2 separate regions of the Homo sapiens genome follow, and region 2 is linked to region 1. The links come from fine-mapping of genetic effects on gene expression. A gene starts in region 1. The other region holds a variant in brackets. All regions are shown on one strand. Distances are between the middles of the regions.

Evidence for each region. PIP is the estimated chance that this variant, and not a neighbour inherited with it, causes the effect.
Region 2: its variant is the best candidate, but not a certain one, in a credible set for the expression of YPEL5 in whole blood (TOPMed, PIP 0.61).

What each region holds. Positions count from the first base shown.
Region 1 is chr2:30,145,522-30,148,422 of GRCh38, forward strand. YPEL5 (yippee like 5) reads left to right here and starts at 1,486. Exons shown (of 3, transcript NM_016061.3): 1 at 1,486-1,541. RefSeq lists silencers at 1,090-1,669, 1,700-1,869, 2,160-2,599.
Region 2 is chr2:30,222,196-30,225,096 of GRCh38, forward strand. No RefSeq gene overlaps it. Among named protein-coding and RNA genes, the nearest start is that of LBH, 7.9 kb to the right of the region's middle. RefSeq lists a silencer at 1,580-1,639 and an enhancer at 2,160-2,229. The variant G/A (reference allele first, on the strand shown) is at 1,507.

The sequences.
Region 1 (2,901 bases):
GAGGTCAGGAGTTCGAGACCAACCTGGCCAATATGGTGAAACCCCGTCTCTACTAAAAATACAAAAATTAGCCGGGCGTGGTGGTGTGCGCCTGTAATTCCAGCTACTCAGGAGGCAGAGGCAGGAGAATTGCTTGAACCCGGGAGGCGGAGGTTGCAGTGAGCCAAGATCATGCCACTGCACTCGAGCCTGGGCGACAGAGCAAGACTCCGTCTGAAACAAACAAACAAAAAAACTTATCTCCTGGAAAACTCACTTATTAAAAGATAACTAGTCCTTTTGCCTTTGATGCTCAGGTAAACTTCAGACGAACTAAATGAAAATACTTGTGGATTTGGGGATGAGCGGGAGTCAAGTGCTAGAATTTGCTTAGCAGCTTCTCTTCCACCAATAATGACTTTAAACATGTTGCAAACTAGCCCCAAATGCTAACCTACATTTTTAATCTGAGAGGTATGCGTCATCAAATATTTTGGTTTTATCCCGAAAGTCAGCTAACAGAGATGTAAGTACCTGGGCAACTCTAATGGAATGAGAAGCAACATCTTCCATCTTAAGCATTGATAAGGGTTAAGGGAACAGCTGCTCTTTGCAATGAACAAATCTCACTCTCTGAGGCAGAAATTCGCCATATAGAAGACTGAATTTCTTCATCTTTTTGAGAATCATTTCCACTACCCAGAAAAAACATTCAAATGAGTTGTAAATAAAGTCAAGCGCAGTTGAAAAATCCTGTATCCACAGATGTTTCTTAGGAGTGCCTATGCGCTTAGACTCGAGGGCTAGGGGTTTGAAAGCAAAAGGCAGCCCTCTACCAGGGGTGGTCGGGGAAACGGCCTCCAAGAAACGAATTACACGGTGCACTTTAGTTACCTAGGCAGCTGTTTGTCTAGGAAACAGCTTATTGTTTTCATTTGTCATCACCGCGGCTCACTAGGTATCAGGAAGCTCGGCTCCAGCCGCTACCTGGTGACGCTAATGACGTGCGATGTCTCGCAGCTGCCGCAATTAGACAGGCCAAGCCTTCGCCTTTAAGAAGCTGACTCACGTGGATGCTGTGTTGTGTGCGCTCAGCTGAAAGGGGGAGGTGGGTCCCCAGACTGACTACATTGGCCGCCTCGAGAGAAGGGGCAGAGTTAGCCTCTTTGATTGGCTGTACGAGTCCGAGGTGCTGGGTCAGGGGCGGGGCGAGCTGTCGCAAGCCTGCCCTGGGTCTGCGGCTTCTGAGAGGGGTGGGCCGCGAAGCGGAGGGGTGCGGGAGTGGGGGAGGGTGAGCCAGAGAAGGGGCGGGGCCCCGCGAAAAAGGCAGGAGGCCGAGGACAGGGGCGGGGCCTAGAAATAAAGGGCGTTCTGGGCCAACCGGGAGAGCTGACTGCGGGGGGGCGGAGCCACGCCGGGTGACTGACGTTGAGGCCCAACCAGGGAGAGGCGGGGCCAAGGCCAGGGCCTGACTAAACCTGGAGACTCGGGTGGCCGAGGGGCTTCATACCAGCTGAAGAGCGACAAGCCGCTGGCAGCCGCGGATCTCACCGCCGCTCAGGGTGAGTCCCGCGGGAGGGGCTGGACTCGGGGCCGGTGGGGACTGAGGCGCCCGTTCGGGTCGGGCGGCTTCGAGGCACTCGGGAATCGGCCCAGGGTGGGGGGCCCAGGCAGGAAGTGCCTCTTCCTCGCCGCGCTCTTCCCGGGGTCCCAGAGCGGCCGCCCCAGATCCTTCAGGGTGGGCCCCGGCGCTGGGACCGCGGGCGGACGCGCGGGGCTGTTTGCTCTTTGTGAGGCCTGGCGCGGCGGCCGCCGTCGGCCCGCCCCCGCCGCGCAGCCGGGCGACCGGTGCGACAACAGCCGCAACCCCTCCGCGCGGCGCCCGCGCCTCCGCCCCGTTTCCCCGTCGCGTCCTCCGAGGCCCGCCGCCGAGGCCCACGGCGCCCCCTGGGCGGACGGTCTGGCCGCGACCCCCAACCCGCCGCGCCGCGCCGCGGCTGCCCCGCCCCCACCCGTCGCATAGTCGGGGGCGCGCCCGGTCTCCGCCCCGAATCCAAGTCGGAACTTGACCGAGTTGTTTGGGCCGCGATGACCGCACGGCGTGAACCGTCCTGAGCAGGGCCCACGCCCGGCCCAAGCGGCCCAGCCACCGGGCTGGGGCGGTGTCTCCCTTTGCCCCCTCCCCCCCATGAACGTCCGCCTCCCCCGCCCTCCTGCCCAGAGGACCCGGGACTGACAGCGCAGGGTGACGGTTGGGCAGCCCGCCGGGTGTCGGGACCAAGAGAGCCCCCCGGCCACCCGCTCAGCTGTTTCCTGCTCGTGTTTGTTGTGCCGAGGGAGGCCCCGCCGCCACCGCCGCCGCCGCGCTCTGCCGCCCCGGTCCCTCCCGATTGGCCGGCTGGCGTCACGTGGCCTCCATCAGCTGGGCCGGCGGGGGCGCTCGCGGGCCCCACTGCGGCTGCCGGGTGAGCCCACCCGGGGGTCGCCCGGGCCGGCCCAGCTCCGCCAGCTTCGGGCTGCGGCCTTCCCTCCGCTTGCAGTCGGGAGGGTGGGCGTGCCCTTGCAACCCCTTTCCTGTACCTTCTCTGCAGGTAGATGGGACAAATGAGTGTCCGGATCAGCGGGAGTGGGAAATTGAAATACTACAAAGATCTGTTTAATCCTGATACCAACTAATCTCCCTTTCAAGGGAGAGTCTGGGAAGCTGTACAGCTCATTTATTTTTAAACTTTTTCTGTTTACAGAGATCTGTTGGTAATCTGAGGATTTTTATTCTACGTCGTCTTGACAGATGGAAAACCTGAAGTAACTTCGGGCTAACCTTGTGTTTTTGGAAAATTAGTAGACTTGGTGGTGAAGAAACTGGGAGGAGTAGGATATTAGCTAACTTTGCATAGCCACATATAGAGCGTCGCAGCTGCA
Region 2 (2,901 bases), 77 kb after region 1:
CTTGTTACAGTTGCACAATACTTACTGCGCCATAAGCGGAGGGCAGGAAATATCAGGCCCATTTTACAGAGAAACAAACTGAGCCCCAATAAGTGAAAGGAATTGGTGGTTCTCTTATTAAGAATGCCTGCAGCATCATATCTGGTGTGTAATCCATTTACTTTCTTCTTTTTAAATAGAGAAATTACTAAGCATTGTGGAGGCTTAGGGTCCTGGAGATGAAGGCAGTAAAATGAGACTAATGCTGGTGAGGGTGTATGAAGGGGCCCTCTCTAGGGTGGAAGTGGAAGCCAAGTGGGTCAGCACTTTTATTGGTACAACCTGCAACCATCCCAGATAAAATAATCAGGTGGCTAGGAGTGGGGAAGGTCCCCCCTACCCCTGGGAAGACTCAAACACACAGAACATTCTAGCTTTTTGCAGTAATAATATCATGGACATTAAAGAAGAAGATCAGAAAACAGCTTCAGATGCATCACCTTCTGTCTTTCTGGTGCTCCTTTCTAAGAGGAGGCCTGGATGAGAATGCACAAGAAAGCCAGGCACTCACTCAGGAGAGTGCAAGCCAAGGTTCCTACCTGGCTGTGCCTCTGAATTCACCCACCCAGGGCCCTTGGTGAGGGTGGGAGGTGTGGTGGCCAGTTGCCCCGCCATCTTCAGTAGCTGGGGGCAGTAGGGCCACTGGCTCTGCCTGAGGCCAAAACGTGCCACACTGGCTGCTCACTGGGCTCTGAAACCCTGCATGTAAGCTACCCCGAGGCCTCACCAAGCGTGTGGAAATGTCTTTCTGCTGTCATTACTTGTCCTGGCTTTTGCTCAGACTCACACAGGACTTACACCCCTGGGCAGGGATGCTGAGTGCCCGGGTCCCCTTAGTCTAAAGCTCTGTCCCTTGGAAGGAAGGAAGGAAGGAAGGAAGGAAGGAAGGAAGGAAGGAAGGAAGGAAGGGAGGGAGGAAGGAAAGAAGGAAGGAAGGGAGGAAGGAAAGAAATGGTATGCCCAGATCTTTTTTCCCCTCTTCTGAGTTAAACAGCTCAAGTGCTATGATCATATTAGATCTAGGGACAAGAATTCCAATCAGATCCCTCCAGAAGGACTGTGATGGACAAGGAAAGTCACCTCATACTGTGCCCACTGGATGCACCCACCCCAGCCCTTCCAGGTGGTTCCCCCTCTCTCTCTCATCATGACATGGTTTCCCCCTGGGCTTCAACCATCAACCATCAATTTGCCTCCAGGACCAGAGACTTTCCTGTCACCCACTTACCCTGTCTGCAGTGCCACCATGAAACTGAGGCCTTTGAGGTGCTGCCTGCATGTCATTCTCACAATAGTGTGAATTCATTTGTCAGATCAAGTTCTCTTGCCTGGCAGCTGCCTTGGCTTAGAGAGCTGCAGGATGGAAGTTTCAGTGGAAAAGCAAAGAGTGGTTTTGGAGCTTGGGAGGCTGTTATGAAGGGAGTGTGGGGCTTCCTGAGTTCAGTGGGTGCCTGGGGCGCATTGAAG[G/A]GAAGTGTGAAACAAGAGGGGTTAGAAAGGGGAAGTCTCAAAAGACAAATTTCACATACATGAAATTTGACCTACTTAACACTTCTGCTGAGGCCCCACCTGGCTGGAAGAGAAACGCTGATATTAACTCGAATAACATAGAGGTGAAGGAACCTGGACTGATTTGGCTAATGGAAGTAACAGACTTTTCTTTCTGCTAGAAATTGTGTGCACAGTCCCTTCCGCAGAGCATGAGGCCTTTTACTCACAAATAGTTATTCCCTTCAGCATGTAGACTTGGAGTCATGGGAGTGCCTCTCCCAAGGTCTGGAATAGATAATGCTGCTGCCCACCCCTAGTTCCTGGGACACACCTGGCCCTTTCTGACCCCTACACCTTTGCTGATGTTGTTCTGCTGGCAGGATCGCCCTTCTCTAGCTTCTCCCCATCCTTTGAGGCCAGCTCAGTTGCCATCCCTTCCCTTTAGCTATTCCTGCTACCATTCTTTCCACAGATATTCCCTGAGTGCCTGCTAGATTCCAGGCACTCTTCTGGTGGTGGTGACACAGTAAGACACAAAACAGACCTACTCCTTGCCCTTGAGAGCTTCCCTTCTGCCAGTCAGCCCCCCTCTCCCAGTGCCTTTGCCTGGGACTGAACTAATCATATCCCCACCCATGCTCACATGAGTCTACTGCAGCAGTTATTGTATGATATTAGAGGGAGTGGCAACTAGGTTCCCAGACACCCCAGTGCCCAACACCTTGCCAACACCAGAGGTAGACTCTCACTTCTTTAAAAAAGAAACTCAGGGGTAGCAATTTGCATAGGAAGGGCAGAGGCTAGGAGACTTACCTGCAAAATGCACTTGCTAGCATGTGTGACCGTTCTACTTAGTTTTGTGTTTGTTTGTTTTTGTTTTTGTTTTTTTTTTTGAGACAGTTTTGCTCCGTTGCCCAGGCTGGAGTGCAATGGTGCGATCTCAGCTCACTGCAACCTCTGCCTCCCGGGTTGAAGCGATTCTCCCTGCCTCAGCCTCCCAGAGTAGCTGGGATTACAGGCACCCAACACCACGCCTGGCTAAGTTTTGTATTTTTAGTAGAGATGGGGTTTCACCATGTTGGCCAGGCTGATCTCGAACTCCTGACCTCAGGTGATCCGCCCACCTCTGCCTCCCAAAGTGCTGGGATTACAGGCGTGAGCCACCGTGCGCGGCCTTAGTTTTGTGATTCTTTGAGGGGATCATTAATGCAGTTTAGGGAATTTGTCTTACAGGTGCAGTGACCTTGCAGGCATAATACCATCACACAGACTGTGGTTATCTGGGATGGTTACAGGGAGTTATGGAGACAGGAGAAAACTAAACGTCTCCTAAACCGATTCTTTGGAAATGCCAGCACCTGTCTGGCACACAGT